Regions from separate parts of the Homo sapiens genome. Here region 2 is linked to region 1. Evidence: fine-mapped expression QTL. Tissue or cell type: gastroesophageal junction. Region 1 holds a variant in brackets; the other region holds the start of a gene. All regions are shown on one strand. Distances are between the middles of the regions.

What was found. PIP is the estimated chance that this variant, and not a neighbour inherited with it, causes the effect.
Region 2: MIR762HG starts here. The variant in region 1 is fine-mapped to the expression of MIR762HG in gastroesophageal junction (GTEx, PIP 0.98).

What each region holds. Positions count from the first base shown.
Region 1 is chr16:31,355,471-31,363,560 of GRCh38, reverse strand. It overlaps ITGAX (integrin subunit alpha X), which reads right to left. Exons shown (of 30, transcript NM_000887.5): 2 at 7,563-7,668; 3 at 6,833-6,936; 4 at 6,460-6,530; 5 at 6,197-6,308; 6 at 3,731-3,861; 7 at 3,496-3,641; 8 at 3,098-3,251; 9 at 2,348-2,498; 10 at 1,652-1,725; 11 at 1,357-1,486; 12 at 808-950; 13 at 486-626; 14 at 187-396. It also overlaps the pseudogene LOC100422479. Among named protein-coding and RNA genes, the nearest start is that of ITGAX, 4.3 kb to the right of the region's middle. The variant C/T (reference allele first, on the strand shown) is at 3,714.
Region 2 is chr16:30,871,307-30,879,406 of GRCh38, reverse strand. It overlaps MIR762HG (MIR762 host gene), which reads right to left and starts at 3,947. Exons shown (of 3, transcript NR_110942.1): 1 at 3,921-3,947; 2 at 3,289-3,377. MIR4519 (microRNA 4519) reads left to right here and starts at 4,084; the gene lies at 4,084-4,141. It also overlaps a transcript of BCL7C not described here. RefSeq lists a silencer at 3,175-3,234 and enhancers at 3,555-3,604, 3,635-3,844, 3,154-3,908, 4,115-4,374, 3,909-4,663 and 1 more.

The DNA of each region.
Region 1 (8,090 bases):
GGCAGAGAATCGCTTGAACCTGGGAGGCGGAGGTTGCAGTGAGCTGAGACCACGCCACTGCTACAAGGTGCTCAGAGCTGGGCAAGGGAGGTAGGAAAAGGTAAAAAGGGACAGTTTTCCAGTATGACAGAGTGGGAGAGGCAAGAAGCAGGCTGCTCTAGTGACAGAAATGGGACACGGCCTCACCTGGCTGTGGGAGGGGCTGATGCTGGGTCCCAAGACTCCGTGAAACAGGTAGACAGCACCCCGGTTCTCCTCCTCTCCTGGGGCCCCGATGACCACGTCTGTCAGCTTGTCCCCATTCACATCCCCCAGCACTGTCAGAGCCGCCCCAAAGCGACCCCAGGGGTGGCCCTGCTCCCCGTAGAGAACAGCATCACACCACCACCTTCTCCACTGCAGAAAAAAAGCAGTGCCAGGCCCAACCCGGGCAACCCCTCCACCCACACCAGACCCCACCCACCCCAGGCCCATCAGCCACTCACCCCCCTGGGCAAGGGACACACAGACACCTGGCCCCCTCGGGTCTGCTCGTAGTAATGGGGGGCCCCGATGAGGACCAGGTCGGTGCTGCCGTCGCTGTCTACGTCCACGGAGCAGAGGGAGGCCCCGAAGTAGGAGCCGATCTGAAGGGCAGAGCCTGGGTCATGCTGCCTGTCCCTGCCAGAGGCAGCCCTGTGGGCCAGGTCCCACCTCTCCCCAGGTACCAGGACCTCCCCCAAGGCCCTCAAAGCCCCTCCATCCTCTCCTCTGCCCCAGCCACCTCCCCTACCCTCATCCTCCCCTCTGGCTCCTGTCACGCCCAACCTGAGTCCCCGTGACTTCGGCCTTCATCCTCCATTGCCTGGACACCTGGGTGAAGATGACAGCCTTCCCGGTGTGCTGGTAGCGGGGGGCCCCCAGGACCAGGCTCTGCACCCCTTTCCAGAGGGCCAGCTCGGTGGAGTAACCTGAGGGGCCCAGGCCTCAGCACAAAGGCCCCCATTCCCCCTCCCCAGAACCCTGGACCCCCACCCCGGGCAGCACAGCACCATCTCCCCTCCCCAGAACCCTGGACCCCACCCTGGGCAATGCAGCCCCCATCCTCTCTCCCCAGAACCCTGGAACCCACCCCAGGCAGCACAGCGCCCATCCCCTCTCCCCAGAACCCTGGACCCCCACCCCAGGCAGCACAGCCCCCATCCCCCCTCCCCAGAACCTGGAACCCACCCCGGGCAGCACAGTGCCCATCCTCCCTCCCCAGAAGCCTGGACCCCACCCTGGGCAGCACAGCCCCCATACCCCTTCCCCAGAACCCTGGACCCCACCCTGGGCAGTGCATCTCCCACCTGTCCCCAACCCCTGGCTGTTTCTCACCCAGGTAAGAGTCCCTCATGTCCACATTCTCCTGAGACATGTTGATGAAGGTAGGGCTCATATTTGGGGGGTACAGGAAGGCACCTCCAGACCAGGTGAAGCTCCCCACAGCCCCCAGAACGGGGCCATCCTGGGAGAAAAGGATTCCAGGGCTGAGCAGAGGCCGGAGCAGGAAGACAGCATGTACCAGAGATATGCCTTCCGCCTGCGCCTCTTACCCACCTGACACCCACCCTGGCCTTCCCTGCTCCCCCTCCCCTCACGGCACATCATCGGCCTAAGGGGCCCCACTCACAGGTGTGAACACAGCGCTGAAGCCCTCCTGTGCCATCTCCAATTCGAAGGAGCTACTGCTTGTGGTCTCCGTACCTGGGGGAAGGCATGACGCTTGAGTGCCAGGGAGGGAGACGGGCTTTGCCAGGTCCAAGAACACTTCAGCTTTAGGAGAAGCTAAGACTGGAGGCTACAGGGAGAGCTGGTGCCTGTGACAGGGACCAGGCTCTGCCCTCCAGATCAGCTCCGACTTCGGGGCCCCCCTCTGCTCCATGGATGTGGACAGCGATGGCAGCACCGATCTGGTCCTCATCAGGGCCCCCCACAGGTCTACAAGCAGACCCGAGGGGGCCAGGTGTCCGTGTGCCCCTTGCCCAGGGGAGTGAGTGGCTGGTGGGATGTGGGCTGGGTAGGGCCCGGTGTGGGTGGAAGGGTCTCCTGGGTTGGGCCTGGCACTGCTTTTTGTTCTGCAGTGGAGCCGGTGGTGGTGTGAGATCACTCTCTGTGGGGAGCAGGGCCATCCCTGGGGCCACTTTGGGGCAGCTCTGACAGTGCTGGGGGACGTCAGTGGGGACAAGCTGACAGACATGGCTATCGGGGTCCCGGGAAAGCAGGAGAACCGAGACGCTGTCTACCTGTTTCACGGAGCCTCGGGTTCTAAGTGGAAAGGTGTTAACGGCTGAGGATTCCCCAAGCGAAGAGCTCCCTTCAGACTCACCCTCAATGGCAAAGATCTTCTCCTTCAGTTGGTTTTGAATATCTTTCAGAGCATCAAAGTCCTCCACTTTAAATATGTGTTCCTGGGAGGGCTTCGATGCAATGTCATTTAATTCTTTCCAAGAATTTCTGTTTTGAAAAGCTAATCCAACCTGTCCCCAGAAAAGATCAACTCAGTAAAAATAATAAATCAAATGTGCCTGTGTGCACTGGGTGCAACATCTTCCAATAACCCCACAAGATCAACATGATCACACCCGGTGGACACAGGAGAAACACGAAGCCCGGACAGCATCAGGGAGTTTAGGAGAAAGGATCATGGTCTCCAGTCTGGGGCAGAGTTTTCATCCTTAAGGCAGTAAGAGCCGAGAGAGCTGGTGTTTCTATCCTTGAAAGGGATGTTGTTGGCGGTGGTTCACGCCTGTAATCCCTGTGCTTTGGGAGACCAAGGTGGCAGAATTGCTTAAGGCCAGGAATTTGAGACCAGCCTGGGCAACATAGCAAGACCCCATCTCAACCAAAAAGAAAATAGCCAGGCTTGATGGCACACACCTGTGGTCCCAGCTACTGGGGAGGCTGGGGTGGGAGGATCACTGGAGCCCAGGAGTTCAAGGCTGCAGTGAGCTAGGATTGCACCACTTCCTGGGTGATAGAGCAAGACCCTGTCTCAAAGAGAAAAGAACATACACAGAAAGGGGAGTTGCCCTGAGAGGAAGCCGTGGGAGAAGTGGGAAGCCATCCCACGCCCTACCCCAATTGCATAGCGGATGATGCCTGCTGCATCAGCCATGGGGATGACATCCTTATAATCCAGGCTGTCGCCTTCTTTCTTCCCATCAGTGATGACAATGAGAATTTTGGCGGCATCCCTACGGGCCCCATATGAGGCATGGAACAATCGGTGCCTATCAGGAAAGGAGAGGTCTTAGAGGCCTGTGAACCAAACCACACTAGCCCCTGGTGCCCTTGTGAAAATTAGAAGATGCCTTTTCCTTTGGGAGGCCCCAGTCCCACCCAGAGGCCCCAGCTTGGCAAGGGTATCACGGGCTGGATTTTGGTCCCTGCCTGTCCCCTTCTCGTGGAGACAGATGAGGCCCAAGGGAAGACCTGGGTGCTTTGGGACTGTGCCTGGAAGAAATCAGGACTCACACGACATTTTGGATGGCGGTGGCCGTGTATGTAAACCCTTGCAGCTGGTGAACAGAAGCCAACAGGCTGAGGGGGTTTGAGCTGCGCCTGAATTCCTCGAAAGTGAAGTGTGTTTGGAATTTGTTGGAGAACTGCATCAGGGAAAACTGGGAGAAGCACACAGGGCTGGGGCTGAGGCCATTTCACCAGGATCGAAGCACCCACCCCCAGCAGCCTCC[C/T]TCCCCCAAAGGCACACCTGGGTGCTGGGTCTCTGGAACTGGCTTATCACAGCTCTCACGAAGTTCATCATCGTGGCAAAGTTGCGGGAGGAGATGCTGCCTGAGCCATCGATCAGGAACACAATGTCCTGCTCCTGTCTTGGGCACTCTGGGGAAGGAGGTGGCACCGGTCCTCCAAGTGACACTCCTGGAGTCCAGGACCGTGGCCTCCTGGCCACAAGAGCTCACTCTCCCAAAACCCTTCCTCCCCTAAGCCCCTAGTCTGGCGATGGGAGTCAGGCTCCACACCCTGGGTCCTCTCCTCATCAGGGGCAGAGCTTCCCTAACCCCTTGCCTGGAACAAGGCCCTTCATTCTCTTAAAGTTGCCTAAAGAGGCTGTGATGAGCCAGGCGTGGTGGCTCACGCCTGTAATCCCAGTACTTTGGGAGGCCGAGGGGGGCGGATCACGAGGTCAGGAGATCGAGACCATCCTGGCCCACATGGTGAAACCCCGTCTCTACTAAAAATACAAAAATTAGGTGGGTGTGGTGGCACGCGCCTGTGGTCCCAACTACTTGGGAGGCAGAGGCAGAATTGCTTGAACCTGGGAGGTGGAGGTTGCAGTGAGCTGAGATCGCACCACAGCACTCCAACCTGGCAACAGAGTGAGGCTCCATCTCAAAAAAATAAAAAATGAAAAAGGCTGTGATGAAGCTGCTCAGCCCCATCAACAAAAGAGTGAAGGTCAGACTGGGTGCAGTGACTTACTCCTATAATCCAAGCACTTTGGGAGGCCTAGGCAGGAGAATTGCTTGAGCCCAGGATTTCAAGATCAGCCTGGACAGCATAGTTAGACCTCACATCTACTAAAAATTGTTAAAAATCAGCTGGGCATGGTAGCTCTTCTCTGTGGTCCCAGCTACTCTGGAGGCTGAGGTGGGAGGATCACTTGAGCCCAGGAGTTGGAGGCTGCAGTGAGCTGTGATTGTACCACTGCACTCCAGCCTCAGTGACAGAGTAAGACTATCTCTAAAAAAAAAGAAAAAAAAAAAAACCAGGAAGATTTCTCCAATTCAGACGGTAGGAAGCAGAGGGCCTACCCCTCCACCACCCTGGATATCTGTGCCCCTCCCTGGACCCACCCCTCCTTCCTCCCTCAATGTCACCCCATCCAGCAATGACACAAACTGGCACCAGTCCCTAGCCAGTGTTTGTCCTCACTGCTCAGTGCTGAATGGTAGTTTTGTTAAATTTCTTTTTTTAATTGAGATGGAGTCTCACTCTGTCACCCAGGCTGGAGTGCAGTGGTGTGATCAAAGCTCCCTACAGCCTCCAACTCCTGGGCTCAAGCGATTCTCCTGCCTCAGCCTCCCCAGTAGTTAGGACTAGAGGTATGTAACAGCATGCCAAGCTACTTTGTATTTTATATTTATTTTTTGTAGAGATGAGGTCTCACTATGTTGCCCAGGCTGGTCTCAAACTCCAGGCCTCAAACAACCCTCTTGCCTTGATTGTTAATATTTTAAACAAATCATCCCAGGCAACAGCCACACACTGGGCCTGTTCTGTTCTCAGCTTAAATACAGGCCCCCACTCCCCTCCTGTGTGAAGTTAGCATCTGTCCTGAGAAGAGACGATCTTCCAGCACCTGGAGAGGAAACCCCCTTCCATGTGACCTCTCAAGCATCCCCTCTGCCCCAGAGGCCTCCACCGGAGAGACAGGTGTCCTGGGCATTCTGATGGGTGCCCAGGCCCCTGTGGATGGAGTCTGGACCCACGGAGGTGCTGGAAGGCACACCCTATTTGCAGCCAGATGTCAGTCTCACCAAAGGCTTGAGAGCAAATGTGAAACCAGGGGGAGGCCTCAGCCTGCCAAAGCCCACTGTTTTGCTTCCTTATCTTTCTTCCCCATCAGCACCAGGGAAGTCAGGCCCTGCGTCTCAACCTGCATGTGCACACGCACACACACATACATGCACACACATGCATGTACATGTGTGCATGTGCACATGTATACACATGCATACATATACACACATGTACACACACACACGTTGCTCACACTGCACTTTCACTGACCTTTCCTAAACTACGGCACAAACCAATTGGTCATATCCCAGGACCCATTGGATGAAAATAGATCCTCTCCTCTAAAAATAACAACAGCTGGCCTTCATGGGGCTGTCGCCTGGTGCTAGCTGCTGTGCTAACCCCTGGCCATGAATCATCCTGTGTTGCTTTCAGTGCTGGGTGTGTTATTATCCCCATCCAACAGATGAAGAAACTGAGGCTTGGAGAGGTTAAGGTCACAGGAAAGGTCCGGCAGCGTGCGGGCGATCGGCAGGATGTGCGGGCAGCAGCGTCAGGAACCACTGCAACACGTGGTAACTCTTTTTCCAGATCCCTTCTTTCTGATCCACTCTGGCAAGACTGTCTCTAGCCCACCGCACCCCCAATTGGATGTGCGTGAGCTCCTCAAAGCCTTGGTGGTCCCGACACTCACCCTGCCTGGACACCGGGAGCCTCTGGGTGAGCTGGGTGGGGCCCAGGAGGAAGCAGAGTCCGGTGAGGTACATGTTCCTCCCGCACTCGTGGTGCACGGTGGGGCCGCAGGCCTGGGGACACAGCGGGCTGCTGGGGGGCTGCCCCTGCTTCCTCCCACCCTCACATTCCGGAACCTCCACCCTACAGGAGACTCCCAGCCCCCCGCGGCCCCGGCTCCTCCCTCCCTCCCTCAGAAGCCTCCTGTGACCCAGGGCCACTCACCAGCAGCTGGGAAGGGCTGGTGGTAGACGCCAGGGACAGGCCCAGGGACATGTTCACGGCCTCCGGGGGCACTGTGGGGACAGATATGTGCATGGTCACTCTCGGGGGTACAGAGAAGGCTGTGGAAGAGCTGGGCAGGGGTCACCTCCACCTGGGAGACAAGGAGGTCTGACGGTGAAGGAAGCTGTCGGGTCTTGACAGAGCTGCGGGAGTGCGATGGGCGGGGAGGCCTTAAGGGGCCAGGAAGCATATCTGAGGGTGAGGGTCTCAGACACAGTGGAAGCTGAAAGTGACACTCCGGTGAGTCCACGGGCCCCTGGAGCAGGGAAGCCTGGGAGCCCGGCCCTGGGTCCCGGGAGGGGCGGTGACTCACCCTGCAGGCCGATGGGCTCACAGGCACCAGTGCTGTAGCCACACTGGTAGAGGCCACCCGTTTGGTTGGCAGCTGTTATCTTTTGGGGGGCTCCAACCACCACCCTGCGAGGAGACAAAGAACACTTTAGGTAAGAGTGTGGACGCTGCAGCACAGCTGCCACTCCGGCAAGTTTGCGTTCCCTCCCTGAGCCTCAGCTTCCTCATCTGCAAGATGGATTTTAATAATTTAAAGTCCATGTGGAAGGGATTTCTGTCTGTTGGATTCTCTGGCGTATGGAGACAAGAAATATTTGTTGAGTCTGGGTGTGGTGGCTCACACCTGGAATCCCAGCACTTTGGGAGGCTGAGGCGGGAGGATTGCTTGAGCCCAGGAGTTTGAGACCAACCCAGGCAACATAGTGAGACCCTGTCTCTATATATTTTTAAATGTATAGAAAAAAAGAAAGAAAAAACAAATAAGTGTTTGTTGCACGACTGATTCCTACTCACAGGCTGTCGTGTGGACTAAATCAGCATCCACCTGTGATGAGCCTGGCACTGCACTTACTGCTCTGTAAATGTTAGCTGTGAGACCGTGCCTGCCTTCAAGGCAAATCTTCATTAGCCAGGGCAGTCGCTACACCAGACAGAGAGGAGAGTTTGCAAATAACAGGGCAGGGCCGGGGGCATGGGGCCCTGAGCAGGGAGAGGATGGATGGAGCCAAAGGCCAGCACCACCTGGGCCTCACCAGGAGTTGGCATACTGGACCACGCTGTCTCCAAACCCAGCGCTGTCCACACGGAAGGCTGTCAGCTCCTCTGTGTCCAAGTTGAAACCTAGAGAAGTTGCTAAGGCTGGGAAAGAGGTGGGAAGAGAGCTTTGGAGAAGGGTCTTCCTTCTGCCTGGCTGCCCTCCACCCCCGGCCCCAGCGTCCCAATCTCCCCTCCGAGCCTGATGCCCGGGGTGCCTGGGTCTTCTGGACACCCAACTCATCCCCTTCTCTCCTTCCCAGGGTCCAGGGATGCCCCTTGCCCACCATCCACTATCGAGTTGCAGTTCTCCATTTCTGCAGAGCAGTACCCAGGCTCTAAAAAGGATCTTTCCCCAACGTGCACCTCGGGCGCTATGAGAGTGAGTCCAGGAAAACTTGCGGACCAAAGCATCCTGTCCACAGAGCACAAGTTGGCGCATTCTGCCTATTTTAAAAATCTCTGCAGTACAGAGACAACTGGCCTCTCTTCCAGCATCTCTGGAACTCTCCCAAAATTGGTTCATC
Region 2 (8,100 bases), 480 kb after region 1:
AATTATATTCCATAGGCCAGGATCACTCTGCTGGGTGGAGAAGAGATGGGCCCTGCCAGGGCTCAGAGACTCAGGTGAATGCACCACAGGGAGATGGACAGCCTTTTCTTAGGAATTTCTAGAATGCGAAGTCTGTGGCATCAGTCTCCCCAAAAATCTGGGAAAACAGAACTACATCAGGAGAATCTAGCATGACCAAGCATCCCTGTTTGCCCAGGACTTTCTTGGTTTTAGCACTGCAGGTTCCATGTCCCAGGAGACACCCCAGTCTTGAGCAAACTGGGATGGCTGATCACCATCACCCTAGCAGGATCCTGCCACTGCCCTTGGGGCTTCCGGACCCTTTTCACACAAGATTACATTCTGTTCCTCCTACAGAATGATTTTCCTTAAACTCTAAACTGGGCTCCTCTCCTGTTCTAAAACTTCCCATGGCTCCCCATGGCTGAGCCTGGCAACTGAAAGCACGTAGTCTCTGGTAGTGTGCATACTGGAATCACCTGGGGAATCATTTAAATATTCTGATGGCTGCCTTCTACCCTTGACATTTTTTTTTTTTTTTTTGAGACGGAGTCTCGCTTTGTCACCCAGGCTGGAGTGCAGTGGCACGATCTCAGCTCACTGCAACCTCTGCCTCCCGGGTTCAAGTGATTCTTCTGCCTCAGCCTCCTGAGTAGCTGGGATTACAGGTGCGTGCCACCACGCCCAGCTAATTTTTGTATTTTTAGTAGAGACTGGGTTTCACCATGTTGGTCAGGCTGGTCTCAAGCTCCTGACCTCGTGATCCACCCACCTCGGCCTCCCAGAGTGCCAGGATTACAGGCGTGAGCCACCACGCCCAGCCACCCCAGACATTTTTGTTTTTTTTGAAATAGAGTCTCGCTCTGTCGCCCAGGCTGGAGTGCAGTGGCACGATCTCGGCTCATTGCAACCTCTGCCTCCTGGGTTCAAGTGATTCTCCTGCCTCAGCCTCCCGAGTAGCTGGGACTACAGGCGCGTGCCACCACACCCAGCTAATTTTTTTAAATTTTTTTATTTTTAGTAGAGACGGGGTTTCACCGTGTTAGCCAGGATGGTCTCAATCTCCTGACCTTGTGATCCGTCTCCCTCGGCCTCCCAAAGTGCTGGGATTACAGGCATGAGCCACCACACCCGGCCCCACCCCAGACATTTTACATTGGTATCATGTGCAACCTGGGCCCTGGGATTTTTTGTTTTGTTTTGTTTTTTTGAGTCTTGAGTTTAGCTCTATCGCCCAGGCTGCAGTGCAGTGGCATGATCTTGGGTCACTGCAACCTCCGCCTCCCAGGTTCAAGCCATTCTCGTGCCTCAGCCTCCCAAGTAGCTGGGATTACAGGTGCCTGCCACCACACCCGGCTAATTTTTGTATTTTTAGTAGAGATGGGGTTTCACCATGTTGTCCAGGCTGGTCTCGAACTCCTGACCTCAGGTGATCCACCCGCCTTGGCCTCCCAAAGTGCTGAGATTACAGGCATCAGCCACTGCGCCCGGCCAAGGGCCCTGGGATTTTTACAAGCTCCTCAGGTGATGCTAACATGCTGCAAAGCTTGGAGCTGTGAGCCTGTGAATGTGATTTGTTTGGCTTACATGGTGTTGAACATGTTGGCAACATTAAAATCAAGTGATTTCATATAAAAATCTGGACTAGGCTGGGCGCGGTGGCTCACGCCTGTAATCCCAGCACTTTGGGAGGCCGAGGCGGGTGGATCACGAGGTCAGGAGATCGAGACCATCCTGGCTAACACGGTGAAACCCCATCTCTACTAAAAATACAACAAATTAGCTGGGCGCGGTGGCGGGTGCCTGTAGTCCCAGCTACTCGGGAGGCTGAGGCAGGAGAATGGCCTGAACCCAGGAGGCGGAGCTTGCAGTGAGCCGAGATAGTGCCACTGCACTCGGGCCTGGTGAAAGAGCGAGACTCCGTCTCAAAAAAAAAAAAAAAATCTGGACTCAGGCCGGGTGACGTGCCTCACACTGTAACCCCAGCACTTTGGGAGGCTGAGGCAGGAGGACTGCTTGAGCCTAGGAGTTGAGGCTACAGTGAGCTATGTGTTGCTACCCTTCAACCTGCGCGACAGAGCAAGATCCTGTCTCTACCAAAAATAAAAAAAGAAATCTGGACTCCAGCTACCCTTGAAAGCAGATATTCTGAGATACTGAGTTTGCCTCCTGGAGTGGTCATGGGGCGGAGGTTGGTGGGGTAGGGGGGTAGGGGGTGCAGAACACTGACTGCCCTGGGGGCGGAGTCTCTGCCCTTCAGTCCCCGCAATCCCTACCGCTCCCTGGTGTTCCACTCTCCTCCTTGCTGTTCACTTGCATGGCCTCCAGGCTAATGGCTGAGTTTTGCGGCCAGGCATTTCAGGCCTCCCAGCCTTGGCCTCTGCTCACCTTCTCCACCTCCTCACTCCCTGCTCTAGTCATCTTCATCTCATGTCCTGCCCTCCAGCCACATGGGCTTCTTGGTCCCTTCCACACCTGTTTTTGCCCATGGAGTTCTCCCACCAAGTTCCTTATGGTAGAAAAGCCCCTGCTGGATTTGGCCCCTGCCCACCTCTCCTGCCCCTTTCCCCAAGCTTTCTTCCAACTCATGCATAGAACTTCTACCACAAGGAAGCTGGCCAGGCTGTTAGCACTCCCGTTCCCTCTGTCTGTGAAGCCCTTTCCTTCCCTCCACCCTCCCCTTCTCTCTCTTATCTCAGGCTTTGGGTTTGATTTCACCTCCTCCAAGGTTCCCTGACCTTCAAACTAGGTCAGGTCCCTGGTTAGTCACTATACTTCCTCTTTCTCACCTCCTTCATCTCACTTCCCCTGCTAGAATAAGGCCACATCTGTCTCATAATCTCTGTCTTCCTAGGGCCTAGTGTGGTGCCTGGCATACAGTAGGTGCTCATTAATGATAAATGAATGAAAGCAAGCACATCTCCCTTTCTCTACTGGCAAAATCCTAATCCTTTTCTGGTTACATTTCTCCTGTAGCATCCAATTCTGTTCTCGAGACCCAAAAGATCCCTGAGGTCCTGTGATCAATGGAGTTTTAGCTCAGGTCCATTTCACAGTGGGCCCAGGGGATCCCCAGATTCATCCGTGGTTATTTCCCCAGGCACAGAGTGAGTGCACTGGTGGCACAGGCATACCCAGCAAGTGGCATAATCCCCCCCATTAGTTAACTGGGTGTCGCTGTGCATGGCTGTGAAGGCAGGGATGCACCTGGCTGGTGACCCCAGAACCCCTCCGGGTACGGCACAAGGGCAGAGCCCAAGAACTTACTTTCTGTCCTCTTGCATTTGCCTGTGGATTTGCAGTTGGTAATGGCGTTCTTGCCCGGCCCTCCTTTGTTCCTCCAGGCAGCCAGGCAGCTGTGGCGTAGTGAAAGGGCAGGATGCGGGATAGGAATGGAGTTATTCCTGATTCAGACTGATTTGCTCTAACTGTGATTTGGGGCAAGTCCCTTCCCCTGTCTAGACCTTAGCTGGCTGCCGCATCTAAAAAATGGAGCCAATAATCTTTTCCTCGTCTTTGGGGTCATCCATCTTTCAACCACATCAGGAGCAGCGGGAACCAAGTGCAGAGGATGGCCTTAAAAGCAGTATGGGAACCAAATTTTTGTAAAGTAAATATTTTCAACCTTTATATTTTGGAATCACCAGCGGTATTTATTACGTGCACTCTAGGAAATGGAGGCAATGCAATGCCAAAAACAGAAAGTAAAACTGCTGTCCTGTGCCGCGGCCCGGTGGAGGTTTTAATGTCTGTATCTTAAGATCTGGTGAGGGCACGGGTAGGTGCGGCTGGACTGAGTGAAACCAGCCCCGCTGGGCGCCTGGGCCCTTGTCTCAGGGCTGTGCTCGCAGTGGAGGCATCTGCAGCTCGGCACCCAGAGGCCCCGCGACCCTTCCAACCTTTGTGACGCTCCGCGGAGACAAAGGCCGGCGGCGCAGCCTTGGGAAGGGTTAAGGCCACAGACGCAGCCCTGCGCGTGCTAGAGCGGCCGGTGGCGGACTTCCGGTTGGGGCGCGGGCGCGCGCCGCGTGTTCCCGACCCGCCGAGGCTGAGACCTCGGGCAACCTCAGCAGTGCGCAGGGCTGCACTGTCTCCGTCTGCGGCCTGCAGTAAGCGGGTAGGGGATATGTCGCGTGGCCTCGCCTGGTCTGCGGCGGGAAACTCGCATCTAGGCCAGACCCTCCCGCAGGGTCCGCACTCGCGATCTGGGCTGTGGGCAGCATCGTGGCCCCTCGGGGCGTTATAGGGGCGTGAGGATCCCGGGCGAGCTGGGGGCGGGCGGCTTCTTCAGCTCCCTTGCGCCATGGAACCCACTGTATGCCCGTTATGCAGTCAGGAAAGATGAGGCCGGGAAGGAGGGCGTTACGCTGCAACCCCGGAGACCAGCTGTCCCTCGCGTTGCCGCAGTCGGCAGAGGCGTGGCCGGAGCCATTCCCGGTCTCCAGTGCGGCTGCAAGAGCGGGCGCCCGAGGGCGTTCTGCTCCGGGCCTCCACCCGCGAGCTGACCGTGTCAGGCGCGCCACACACGGCGCTTCTCATTCTCTCTCCACCTCGCGAGGCAGAAGCTGCCGTTCCCGTGTCACAGACAGAAAAACAGTCTGGGGTGATTTATCCGGAGTCAAGACTCAGGTCTGTGGCTCAGTCGGGAAGGATAGAAACCCAAGCTTCCTCCGAATGGTTCAGAGACCCGACCAAGTTAAATAATAATGGCCCTGGCTCAGGGGTCTTTAAGTCTTCCCCCCGCCCTCCCCTTTTGTTTTTGTTTTGTTTTGAGACCGCCTCACTGTCCCCCAGGCTGGAGTGCAGCGGTGCGATCTCCGCTCACTGCAGCTTCGACCTCCCGAGGGCTCAGGTGATCCTCCCACCTCAACCTCAGGAGTGTCTGGGACTACAAACACGCGCCACCACGCCCGGCTAATTTTTCTGTTTTTTGTAGAGTCAGGATCTCGCTATGTTGTCCAGGCTGGTCTGGAACTCCTGGGCTCAAGCGATCCTCCTGCCTCGGCCTCTGAAAGTGCTGGGATTACAGGCATGAGCCACCGCACCTGGCTACCCTTTAATTAACTCAAGGAGTTTAATAATTGAATTTAGGCTGGGCTCAGTGGCTCACGCCTGTAATCCTAGCACTTTAAGAGGCCACGTCGGGCAGATCACTTGAGGTCAGGAGTTCAAGACCAGTCTGGCCAACATGGTGAAACCCTGTCTCTACTAAAAATACAAAAATTAGACGGATGTGGTGCCACACACCTGTAATCCCAGCTACTCGGGAGGCTGAGGCAGGAGAATCCCTTGAACCCGGGAGGCAGAGGTTGCAGTGAGCCAAGATCGCACCACTGCACTCTAGCCTGGGCCACAGAGCAAGAATCTGTCTCAAAAAAAAAAAAAAAGGTTTGACACCTATACCTTCCTCTGTGTGTGTGTGTGTGTGTGTATACATATATCTATATATATATGTATATAGAGAGAGGAGGAAAAATTATATAATTTTTCTATATGTGTGTGTGTGTATATATATCTGTACAATTTTTTTTTTTTTTGAGACAGTGTAGCTCTGTGGCCCAGGATGGAGTGCAGGGACTCGATCTCGGCTCACTGCAACCTCCGCCTCCCAGGTTCAAGCGATTCTCCTGCCTCAGCCTCCCGAGTAGCTGGGATTACAGGCTGCTGCTACCATGCCTGGGTAATTTTTGTATTTTTAGTAGAGACAGGGTTTTGCTATGTTGCCCAGGCTGGTCTGGAACTCCTGAGCTCAAAAGTGATCTGCCTGCCCCAGCCTCCCCAAATGCTGGGATTACAGGTCTGAGCCATCACACCCGGCCCATATATACGTATTTTAAAATAACACCTTTACTGAGAGAGATGACTCACACACCATACAACTCACCCATTTAAAGTGTACAGTTCAATGATTCTTAGTATCTTCACAGTTTTGCAAATATCACCACAGTCAATTTTAGAACATTTTCATTACCCCTAAAAGAAACCATACCCATTAACAGTAACTCCCAAGCCTTCCTCCCACTACAGCTCTAGACTACTGCAAATCTACTTTCTGTCTCTATAGAGTTGATTATTTTGGACATTTCATATTAGGGCTTTATGTGGCCTTTTTTGACTGAGATAACCTTTTTGTTGTTGTTTTTAACAAAATCAACTCCTTGAGCTCAGAGCCCTGGCCTATAATCATAGCCAGCTAGAACTGAACAGCATTGTTTTGGTTTTATTGTATCTATTTTTACCACTCTTGGGTACATGATAATTTCTCATTTATGGCAGTGGTTAAAGTTTCCTTTTGAATACACCTAGTTCCATCAAAACGTGAGTTGATAATTTTTAAAGAACAAGATTAAGTAAACAGAAGTAGAGGTGGTCCACAAATTTGTCAGAGGTTGGGAAGATGGGATGTGAATGAAGTTTGGCAAACACTGGATTGTCTGATTTACGGTTCTCCAGGTCATCATTTGAAAACCACCCTCACCTTATTCTTTCATTGCATTTTCCTGACAACTCCTGTAAAGAAGTGCATGATTTTACCGATGAAGAAACAGGTTCAGAGAAGTCAGGTACAATTACTTGTCCAGTGTCACACAGCTAGTGACAGAAGCTAGGCTTAACCAAGTCTGTCTGATTGCCAAAACTACCTACTTACCAAGTCTGGAAGTAGGATAGGGGGTGGGGAATGGACTAGCAGGCTTGAGAGGGGACTCTGGCCACTACCCAAAACATGCGGGCACCAGGCTGCCTGAGTTGTTTTGGGTACCTCTTCTAACAAATATTCAAATATTTCTATGAAACAATTTATGACTCTAAACAGAAATCCCATCTCATTTGCCACTGGGGCTTTCACCCTCTCTCAACGGCACACCGCAGTTCAGGAAGTGCTGCCTGCCTGGAGAATGAGGGTGTGTGTGAACGTGCGTGCTGGTGGTGAGGAGAGTCTGATCTCTAGTTCATCTTGGTTGCTACTGGCATCACTTTCCAAGCCCACAGGGGTCCCTTACACTCCATGACTTCTGCCCTATTCCACCTGTGGGCACCAGAGTCTCTAGGCTGGCTGGGATTACCTGCATATAGGGTCCCATGTTTCTGGAATGTCAGGCCGCCACCTGCTCTCAGGACTGACCACTTTCCTGGAGCACAGCCGCAGGGTATTCACCATGACTCCCTCTCTCCCCTTCCTGGCCAAGGACTTTCCCACCTCTTGCCATCATCTTCATCAGAACTCTGCCTCCTCCCTCAGACCCTATTCCTCATCTTATTCTTTCCCTGTGGGCTTTAACTGACCATTAAATTCAGAACCCATTCCAATAACACGAATATCCTTTTCCAGAGAGAGCTTAATTTTATACCTTAATTTTTGAAATTATAGCATATAGAAGATAAGCAAAACAACCAGGTCCTGCCATGCTCTTGTTCAACACCGATTTAACTCAGTCCACCTCTCTCACAGCTGTGCAATTCAACTTGACCCAAACTTGAGGCTAAGCACCTCCAGACAGGATGATTAGGGTCCATCTGGTCTCACTCAACTTAGGTGAGAATCTCAACCCTAAATCCAAGCAATTATCTGAGTAATTCTGGACCCTATAAAACAAAATAGTGGCCGGGTGCGATGGCTCACACCTGTAATCCCAGCACTTTGGGAGGCCAAGGTAGGCAGATCACCTGAGGTCAGGAGTTCAAGACCAGCCTGGCCAACATGGTGAAACCCTGTCTCTACTAAAAATGCAAAAATAAGCCAGGTGTGGTGGTGCCTGCCTGTAGTCCCAGCTACTCAGGAGGCTGAGGCAGGAGAATCACTGGAACCCGGGAGGTGAAGGTTGCAGTGAGCCAAGATCGTACCACTGCACTCCAGCCTGGGCGACAGAGTGAGACTCAGTCTCAAAAAAAAAAGCTAACATTGAGCTAGGTGAATATTCTCAGAGCACTACATGCATAATCTTACAAAATCATTTCAATAACTTAGTGAGGTAAGTACTCTTATTATTTCCACTTGACAGATGAGAAAAGCAAGGCACAGAGAAGTGAAGTCACTTGTCCCATAGTATATAATAGAGGCAGATCTGAATCCGTATCATC